3 linked regions of the Homo sapiens genome follow. The protein of the gene in region 1 purifies or fractionates together with the protein of each later gene. This does not show direct contact. Each region holds a gene or a part of one and is shown in the gene's direction. Other genes may lie near its edges. The genes, in order: CCDC82, TF and SERPINB5.

Region 1 (3,478 bases):
AAAAGAAAATGGCTGGATTAAGGAGGTAAGGTGAATATATGAGAATCTTATCATGTAGATTCTGAAGGCTAATTATGATCAGCAAAAGGAAACAAATGATTAAAAGATAGTGAAATTTAAGAGAATCTCTTTCTTCTGTCGTTTGTATTTTCTCTTCTTCCGCTCATTCCTTTCATGCTTATCATTGTCCTTCTGAATAGATGCCCTGATGTTCTAAGGATTCACTCAGCCCATCAGATAAATTTTAATAAGCATTAACACTGTCCTTTATTGAAGGACCTCTGTCCTTTCGCTTTTATGTATGTATTGCTTACATATATATTAAGTCCCCTGATTTTTTTTTTTTTTTTTGACAGAGTATAGGACTCACCTCTGCTTGTCTGCTTCCTATTCTTTAGAACAGTTCTTGTGACCTGAGAGTGAAGAAGCACCTGGTGCCAGTCTGAGGAAAGGATCTCGGCTGCCAGTTCTAATACACCCACATCCTCTTCTTGAGGACATGGGACTGAGCAGTGAGCACTGTAACTGAAGATCGAGGGGAATGCAGAGGTTTCAGACCACAGCACTGATTTTGATTCCCCCATATCCTATTGATCACTAAATTTGATAACAGGAGTAAAGTGGGGGTTTTGAAGAGTGCACTGGATTCCCGAAGATCTGCTGGCAGCTTACAAGCTCTGGTCTGCTCACAGAGCTTTTAGAATTGTTTATGGTATATGGAAAGAATGCTAATACGACTGCAGTCTTCTAAAACAAGTCTAGTTACATGAATGTATAAGAGAGAACAAATAGTAGATTTTCAGGCAACTCTTATCAACATTTAATCTTTTAAAGAAAAGAAAAAAGCCTAACTTGAGATCCATTGCCTGGACTATATCATAGGGAAATTTGTAAAAGAGGAATATAAAAAATAAGGCAAGAGAGCTTAGGCAGATGGAAAGAAAACAAAACAGAAACTTTTTTAGCACATGTCATATTTAGTGGAGGTCTCCCAGTCTAGATAATGACATCATCACTGGTTTCCCTTTGACAATTTTTCTCCCACCACAAACCACCACCCAGTGATCTTGCCTGCCCCCCACATCTTGATCCTTAAGTCTTTCTCTCATTTTATTCTTTTCAGCTTTTTGTCTTTTACTTTGCTTCTACTTCTCCTACTCCAAATGCTTCTCCCTGCTTATCCGTACTTTTTCATTTGCTTTAGGAGAGAGCACTTATTCAATAACTTCCCGTCTTCATTTTCCTAGACAACATTAAATTCTTAAGTGCTTTTATTGATGCCTTTAAGTGTTGCCAACCCTCTAGTGGAACTGCAAAACCTATTGGGATAGCACAGTTATAAAGAATTAGATACTAGGTATAGAAAAATCACTGTGCATATACTGTATATGTTATATAATAGTATCATATATGGGGAAGAACTTTAAACTTCTTGAAGAAAAAAGCATTTCCAAATCATGTATCCTAGAAAAAGCTTAACAAGGTTTAGGACACCAGAAGGGACCTGGAATTTTAAAGACGTTATTCTTTATGCATAACACTTGGCATTCTTTTCTTAGGAAAAGAAAGGAGCTTAGGCTTTCTTTTCAAGAAAGCCAAGTGTCATGTTATACATAAAGAATAACATTTAGCATTAGGCATTGAAGGTATTTCAAGATTGTGCATGTCTAGGACAGTATACACATTTTTTTCCCCATGAAAATACCAAAGACCTTCATTTTTTTGAGATTTCTCCACTTAAAAAATTTGTTCCTAGGTTTTCTCAAAAGATTTCCTAGAAACCACAGAGGTTTATAGCCAATATAAACCCATTTGCAGCTTTTTGTGCTGTAATGAAATTTCAAAATTTGTCACGTGCTCTGACATTTCCCATCCTCACTCTGTCTGTCCCTCTCACTGTGTGCCTTTGAGTGATAGCACTGCATGTACTTTGTGATGTGTGCTGCCTTTAGCTACAGTCTGGTAGTCACAGTTACTCTAACCCTTTAGAATGCCTGGGGCTCAGTGTTACTTGAATGCCGTCTCCATGGCACTTTCCGCTCATATTTCCCATTTATGTCAACCCCTTTTGTTGCCTTACACGTACTATTTGTTCCTGTCTTTCTGCCTCCAGCTTGTATTCCACACCTTACTTTTTCCCTTACCTGCTTCTTCAGCCATTTTACTTTAATTATCTCAGGATGTCTCAGCATGTCTTCCCAAAGACATGCCAACTAGACTGACTTCATTCTTTTTGTTCTTCCTTCTAAAGGTTGAACTAGGGTGATCCGTTTTTAATGTAATGATACTAAAGGGGTGTAGGAGCAACTTGAGTATAAGAAAAGAATAGATAATAGGAAAATTATAATAAAACCAAAATATTTAATAAACATAATAATGCATGTCTTATTCTAAAGAAGAGTTCAATAACATACTCTAATATGACACTGGCAAAATTCTAACGAATATTTGTTCATTAAGAAGAAAGTGTATATGATGATGGGACTTCCTGGGAAGTTGAAGATAGTATTGTTGGGATTGGCTGGTGGATGCATAAACACCAGGTAGTAAAGAAAGCATGTCAATAGAAGTATCAGATGCCCATTCATACTGTAAATACTGTGTGTAAAACTGTTACAAGTGACAGTTGTATGTAAATTTTAAATGCACTGATAAATATTGTCATATACATAATAATTTAAAATTATAATTAGATATCCCTTGCCTTCCTTAAACGCTTCTCTTCTTTTTCCCCTCCTTTTCAACTTTTTCCCTTGCCCCTTTTTTCCCCACCCCTTAAACTGATGTTTCTCAAAGCATGGCCCTAAACTACCTATATCAGAATCACCTAGAAGTTTTTGAAAAGTGTATAATCCCCTAGCCTCATCCCAGATTTATTGAATGACAATCCTTGTGGATGTTAAACATCCAATATTTTTAGCATTGATGATTCTTAAATAGATAAAAGTTTGAGGATCACTGCTAAAAAGTACCCGTTAACACTGAATTCTGTCCTCATCCTCTCAAAGTTGCCTTGGCGAATCAATTCCCTTCTGCAGTTGTAGCTACTACTTCTGAGTAGAAGATTCCAAACTTCTCTTATATTCTGACCTCTTTCCCACACTTCATTTCCACAATTCCAACTGTTTTCATCAGTAGGTCCATCAGGTGTTGTAAGAGAGTAGTCTTCACTATTAAAATAAGTAGTCTTCACTATTAAAACCCTCCAAATGTTTAGTAAAGAATTATGAGAGCAGTATCTTTAGGTAGAGAGGATGGCAGAGTAATACTAACTGCAATGTCTGTGAGTTTCACTTTCCAAGTTTTTTTTTTCTTGCCAAAGCTGCATCCTAGCCACACCATTTAAATCTCAGAAACAGCATACTCTAAACTGGTTAAAAGTATAAGCTTAAGTATTTGCTTTGCCACTTACTAGCAGTAGAATTTGGGAGCAAGCTATTTTATTTCTCTTAGCCTAAGTTTTCTCATCTGTAAAGTA
Region 2 (3,658 bases), on another chromosome or scaffold:
CGAAAGCTGAGGCAGGAGGATTGCTTGAGCCCAGGAGTTCAGGGCTAGCAACTTAGCAGGACCTTGTCTCTAACAACATTTTTTTTTTAAGAAAGAATATTCCATGTTGGCTTACAGAGAATTTTTAAAATCCTGAATGATATAAAGAAGAAATAAAAAGTACTTATAATCATGTAATTCAGAGAAAATTCCCTTATTGGGATCATTTCATGTAGGTTGCTTGCTACCTTTTACTCACTCACAGTATCTAGTAAGCTTTTCCCATATCATAAATCATTCTTGTAAAACCTAATCTGGAGCTTCTGTGTTAGTGCACACATCGAGATGGGGGAGTATGGTTTGCCTAGAGAGAACATGAAGTGCCAAGCTCCACTCCCCCTCCTCCCCACATTTCTTGCCCTCTGTGTCTCTTCCATTTGGCTATTCTTGAGTTGGATCCTTTATAATAAATCAGCAAATATATTGAAACAAAGATGCATATTATAAAGGTACTTCCTGCCATTGTCAACAGATTTTTGCTGAAATATGTTAATTCTACTTTTTGAGCACTTATGAATAACCATGTATCTTCAGAACTATCTACCATGAAGCAAAAAGGGACCATCAAGCTCATTATTTTATATTTCATACAATTTATAGATATCACTTTATGCTATTTTAACATATATTCCATTTTAATTTTTGTCTGAGTCAAGACAAGAAAAACCAAACTAAGTTAAAGCAAAGCCTACAAATTCAAAACCTGAGTCTATACAAATCTGTTAGCAGTTTGAGTGGCTGGGCTTCAATATTATACTCTGGATGTGATACAATAGATAAAGTTTTTTACGTCTGTAAAAAAAAGGAAGAGCAAAAGACTCTTGGGAACATGTGAAATCTTAAATGAAGATTAAGTACAACCAAATGTAAACATATTTTAAAAGGTTCTTCTTGGACATCATAATTTGCTCTCCTATGAAGATGTCATCGTTTGAGCCTTTAATGTTGGAAATAGCTTACAGATGTTGGGGCAGAAACCAAAGACCAACATTGCCATGTTCTGTGAGACCACGTCCAAGTGGATGATTGCTGGATAGGTATGTTTCATGCATAACATTTAGTTCATAAAATTATATGCTACTTTAGGAGGTCCAGGGCCCATGGATTAATGAAACAAAAGTAACTAATCTCATTGCTAGTAAAGAATTATTGGAAACAAAGTTGAAAGACATAGTTTATTTGGTCCCACACCTGTGACACATCATCACTGTCAATGGGAAGCCACTGACCTGTCCCAATTTCCCAAGGTTGTTATCATGGACATCATGGCTGCAGTAGAAAGTGAAGGTGAGTGTGGAAAACAGATCCCAAAGTGACCAGTGCCCTCGGTTATTGCAGTAATCATGTTCATGAGTAGACACACAGGACTTCCAAAGGGAGTCATCATCTCGCATAGAAACATCATTACTGGTATTACTGGGATGGCAGAAAGGATTCCCAGACTGGAGGAGGAAGATGACTACATTGGATATTTACCTGTGGCCCATGTTCTAGAATTAAGCTTTGAGCTTCTTTGTTTTTCTCATGGATGCCTGCTTGGCTCCTCTTCACCCCAGACTTCAGTGGATCAGTCTTTAAAAGTAAAAAATGGGCTGCCCACTGTGGCATGCAGCTGTAGTACCAGCTACTCAGGAGGCTAAGGTAGGAGGATTGCTTGAGCCCAGGAGTTTGAGTCCAGCCTGGGAAACATAGTGAGACACCATCTCAAAAAAATAAAAAATAAAAAAATAAAAACCAGAAGCAAAGGGTGTACTTCTGGGTTGAGACCAACACTGATGGCAGCTGTTCTGGAAATCATGGATCAGATCTACCAAAATGTCATGAATTAAGTGTATGAAATCAGTAGTCTTCAACACAATCTGTTTATTCTGGCTTATAATTATAAAATGGAACACATTTCAAAAGAGCATAGTACTGGATTGTGTGACAGCTTTGTTTTCTGGAAACTGTGAAGCTAGCTAGGTGGAAATATTCAGCTTTTATTGTATGAAAGTGCTCCACTTTCTGCAACACGCAGCAAGTTCATGAATACAGACTCACTGAACCTACAGGGGCTGGAACAATTACAGATGTGTGGATTACAAGACTGGCAGAAGTGAGAGTCCCATTAGTTTGCTGTGAAATTAAATTAAAGAACTGGGAGGAAGGTGGATACTTTAATACTGAAAAACCACATCCCAGAGGTAGAATTCTTATCGGTGGCTAAAATGTGACAATGGGATGCTACAGAAATGAAGCAGAAACAAAAGCTGATTTATTTGAAGATGGAAATGGACAGAAGTGATTATGTCCTAGAGATGCTGAAGAGTTTGATGGTTGTTTACAGATGATCGATCATAAAAAGGACCTTGTAAAACTACAGGCAGGAGACTATGTTTCCCTTGGGAAAGTAGAGCCAACTCTGAAGAATCTCCCAGTAATAGATGACGTTTGTGCATTTGCAAACAGTTAATTGTTCTTATGTCATTGGATTTGTTGTGCCAAATCAAAAGGAACTAACAGAACTAACTTGAAAGAAAGGACTTACAGGAACTTGAGAGTAGCTCTCTAACAGTTGTGAAACAGAAGATGAGGTGCAGTAGTCCCCCTTTATGTGAGGTTTCGCTTTCTTGGGTTATACCTACAGTCAACCGTGGTCCAAAAATGTTAAGATATTTTGAGAGAGAGAGAGAGCACATTAACATAACTTTTATTATAGTATGTTATAATTGTTTTATTATTGTTGTTGTTAATCTCTTACTGTGCCTAATTTATAAACTTTATCATAGGCTTGTATGTATAGGAAATAAACATTGTATAGGGTTTCAGGTTCCAAGACTGGGGGTCTTGGAACATATCCCTTGAGGATAAGAGGGGACTACCATACGTAAAGTACTTTCTGAAGCTGCTATTTGGGCGTGTCTGAAAAAGTTTGAAAATCTATTAAAAATTGGTTTGAGCCCTGACCCATGAATCCTGAAACTGGTCTGGTGACAGGTGCCTTCAAGCTAAAACACAAAGAATTTAATACACATTACCAGGCAGACTCTGAGCGAATGTGTGGAAGAAATGATTTTTCTCTTTTGGCATCAGTTTGCTACAGTGAGCTCAAATCAAATAGGAAATTATTTGAAATGCATGTTTCAAACTGTGAGGCAAACTCCATTCTTCATATTCAACCTAGATTTTTACTTCTTAAGACATCACCATTTTCAACAGACAGGATTAGTAAAATAGTAGGAGAGCAAACTTGTGTCTGTCTTTTTCCTTTTCCCCTCCTACAACTACCTTTACCTAACCTGTGACTGTATTGTCAGTATAAGGAGTTTTCTGAATCATAGTGAGGAAGCAGATTTCTAAAACCTCAAGTTTCTAAACATGACCTATATATTCAGTTTATGTTTAAAGTTTGGATGTGTAGAGGGAGTTATGGAAAATATATAAAGTGGCTGTTGGGGGGTGCTTTTTAACTTACAGTATTAAAAAAATGCAAGGCTATTGATGTGAAATTACATACATTTCAAATGCTTATGAATCAAATCATTATTGAGGATAATATTTGCTGATGTGTAATTACTATCTTGCATGAATTAAGAGAAATAAATATAGCCATACTTACGTTTTAAAGAAAAAAATGATA
Region 3 (3,658 bases), on another chromosome or scaffold:
TGAAAATGTCAAAGATGTACCCTTTGGATTTCAAACAGTAACATCGGATGTAAACAAACTTAGTTCCTTTTACTCACTGAAACTAATCAAGCGGCTCTACGTAGACAAATCTCTGAATCTTTCTACAGTAAGTTGTTTAAAGCAAGTAGCAAGACTTAACTTTTTACAAGGAGTGGCATTTTCATGCTGTTAGACCTACAACTTTTTTTCAGTGAAATTCCTTTCTAGGATGTTCACTTGTGATTTGAGGCTTTAAATAAATAAATCCTAGTGGAGAGGTTGAGTATAGTGGGAATCAATTGCAGTCACATCTTCTAACTCAAAATACAGAGAAGCTTATGGGCTTTCCTTTTCTCTCTCAAATAAATCTTACCCTTTCTTTTACCTTCCTCTGAGAGAATGGAGAACAGAGTAATTAACTCTCTAATAAATGTAGCTCCATAGACAATGAGCTGTCTTACAGAGTGTAAGACAGCTAATGATTTAAACTTCTTTCTCCTTAAAGAGCAGGGCATATGGCCTGGGACAATGTTTTAAGCTCTCCACCTCATTTTTTATGCACACATTCTTCTGATGTTTCTCAAAATCAGTAAGAAAAATAATAACTATGAATTCACAATTTTCATCAGTCACAAATTAGTTTTGTTGGCTGGGCTGGTCAGATGGGGATCTCCACAGGCAGCTCTGGTTATATAAGTTTAGCCATTGCTCTAAGGAATCATACAAACACCACTACGGTACCCATTGTTGTAATATTTAAAAATCTGTATTTGAAACACACAGACAATATTCTAGACTACATGAAGTTTCCCTCTGTACTTCAGTAACACAGAGTTGATTTAGTTCCTGTTTGGATGGTCAGAATTTCAAGGTTTCCAAATCGAAAAGCTAGACTACCAGCTTTTAAATATTTTACCATGATTTTGCAACTTTCTGCAGTAGGTATTTTTGTGGTTAAGATCTTTTGAGGACATGGGTTACTAGATATTGTGAGTATATTTTTTGTTGCTTAAAGATACATACACACAACCATTTTTCTTCCAACAATCATCTGAAGAATTTAAAAAAAAAAACTGAGATGTGAGTTGAAGCCTGAGCATACAACATTTCTAGAAGCTCCCTAAATGATCATTAAAGAGACAATTAACACATTTTTATTGCTGGCAGTGAGGACAATGGAGGCCCTCCTTCATCTGGCTGAGGCTTTCTAATGTTTTCAGGTGAGATTGGTTCTGTCAGTCAATGGTGACAGTGAGTCCCAAGGTTGATTTGCAATTAACTGAAGCTAAGTTAATTGGCTAAGGCTGAAGCTGCTCTGAAGAAATTCAAGAAGCCCTGTGCTTGGAAGTGAACTGACATGACACTGAATCAAGTTATATTTAGTTTCACTGAACTTCCATGCAACATCTGGAATGATCTTAACCAGACTAGGAGTTGTAAAGTTTTGTTTTGTTTTTTTCCTTGGAGATGGAGTCTTTCTCTGTTGCCCAGGCTGGGGTGCAGCGGCATGATCTCGGCTCATTACAAAAGATTTTTTAAAAGACTGCTTTCCATTGCTCCTGCTAGGTGCACAGCATCTGCAAATTTACTAGTTAAAGGTCCAAACAAGTGTGCTCTGTGGAGGATCTCTTGCATAAGAACTATCTGGGTGTTAAAAGGGCAAGTTCTTCAGGCCCTTTTAACACCCAGGTAGTTCTGATTGAACCCAGGTAGTTCTGATTAAACCCAGGTAGTTCTGATTGTCAAGGTGGGAATGGGGTTTAGGGTTGCACATTTTAAATAAGCATTAGAATAAGAACTCCTGTTATGTTCTCTCCTGCATTGTGTTTCCAACCTTAATTTGCAGATGGCACACCTGGAAATTTTGTTAAAATGCATTCTGATTCAGTATGTCTGGGGTGGGGTCTGAGATTCTTTATTTCTAACAAGGTCTCAGGTGATGCTGTACACCACCTTGGACCACAGTTTGAGTAGCAAGGGTCTACAGGATATTTAGTTCAGCAAAGACAAGAGTTTTCTGCTCATAATTCTGTTTTCTATACATTTCCTATATTCTAATATATATGTATCTGTAGACATACAAAATTTTCATGTTTCTGAAATTACAACCCATAAGAGAATTGGGCATATTTAACATAGTGTTTTCCCCAAAGCTGATATTAAATTGATAGATGCATTTAATAATTGAAATTGTCTTATAATTGAAAAAAATGAAACATTCAATACAAAGAAATTCACTGACTTCTACATGAGGTTTCAATTCATATAGTGTTACCAATTTTGAAAGTGTACATATAGCAGTTGATATTTAATAATCCTTTTGTTAGAAGAGAATAACAATGCAATAGCTTGACTACAGACTCTGATTTTATGAACTGCATGTTTTTCAGGAGTTCATCAGCTCTACGAAGAGACCGTATGCAAAGGAATTGGAAACTGTTGACTTCAAAGATAAATTGGAAGAAACGAAAGGTCAGATCAACAACTCAATTAAGGATCTCACAGATGGCAAGTACCCTTTAATTGTTCTGCTATCAATCACCAAGTAAACAGGGCCTTCCATCTCATAAATGTTTGCTCCAAGGATAAAAAAAACATCTGGAGGATTCTCTGGATATTTTTACTACACAAGCTAAATTCTTTCCCTTCAAGCCTGTAAACAACTTGGATTTCTGGGCAATTCTTGTATCATCTCATCACTTGGTAGAAACTGTTGATGCTTCAGTGTTAGTTTACTTTGTCTTGCTCTCTGACGAGCTGTCACAGGCCCTAGTGGAATCCTAGCTGCGCCTCTAACAAAGTATGACTTTGGGCCAATCATGAGGCCATTTTTCAGTCTGGAAATAGAGGGACTGGATTATAACTTCATGATCCCCGAGGCCCCTTTCAGCTGACAAATTTTACAAATTTGTTAAGGAAAAAGGGACATAGGCAACATATGTAAAAGAAAAACCGGCTGGACGCGGTGGCTCACGCCTGTAATCCCAGCACTTTGGGAGGCCAAGGCGGGCGGATCACGAGGTCAGGAGATCGAGACCATCCTGGCTAACACGGTGAAACCCTGTCTCTACTAAAAATACAAAAAATTAGCCGGGCGTGGTGGCGGGCGCCTGTAGTCCCAGCTACTCGGGAGGCTGAGACAGGAGAATGGCGTGAACCCGGGAGGCGGAGCTTGCAGTGAGCAGAGATCGCGCCACTGCACTCCAGCCTGGGCGACAGAGTGAGACTCTGTCTTAAAAAAAGAAAACCAAACCAAACAAAACCGTAGTGTCAGCTTGTCCTCGGTGCCGCAGCTCCCCATGCTGGTCGTTCCTCTGATAGCCCCGGGGTCCAAGAAGCTCCTAGGTTCTTTCTCCGGCTCAGTGCTTCCCCCAGGCGTCTCCCTCGTCGGACTCCTCGTCCCTCCCTTAAAATTGCCGGTGAGTCGTCTTCCTTGCTGGAAAAGAATTAGGGTTATGATGATTTTGAGGGCAAATCAGTGACTTTGTCCCCCTCCCCAGTGGATATATTTATAATTGCATCTGGAGGGACCCGTTGGGAGGCCGGGCCGAATCTAGTCATGAAAGAATGAAGCCTAGGCAGTCGCTGCTGTCTAGGGAGGGATACACTTCCGGGGCAAGGGAGACCCACTTCCTGCGAGAATGACTGGCGCCCCCAG

The links.
Region 2: the proteins of CCDC82 (region 1) and TF purify together in Homo sapiens (affinity purification with mass spectrometry; 2 studies listed by BioGRID and IntAct, with this or other methods). This does not show direct contact.
Region 3: the proteins of CCDC82 (region 1) and SERPINB5 purify together in Homo sapiens (affinity purification with mass spectrometry; 2 studies listed by BioGRID and IntAct, with this or other methods). This does not show direct contact.

Annotation. Positions count from the first base shown.
Region 1 is NC_000011.10:96,355,540-96,359,017, reverse strand, and holds part of CCDC82 (coiled-coil domain-containing protein 82), read left to right. Parts: coding exon 1-25; intron 26-398; coding exon of another isoform or gene 399-446; exon of another isoform or gene 447-3,478.
Region 2 is NC_000003.12:133,759,749-133,763,406, forward strand, and holds part of TF (serotransferrin isoform 1 precursor), read left to right. Parts: intron 1-3,658. UniProt on the Homo sapiens protein: Transferrins are iron binding transport proteins which can bind two Fe(3+) ions in association with the binding of an anion, usually bicarbonate.
Region 3 is NC_000018.10:63,486,957-63,490,614, forward strand, and holds part of SERPINB5 (serpin B5), read left to right. Parts: coding exon 1-127; intron 128-2,390; coding exon 2,391-2,508; intron 2,509-3,657; exon of another isoform or gene 3,658-3,658. UniProt on the Homo sapiens protein: Tumor suppressor. It blocks the growth, invasion, and metastatic properties of mammary tumors.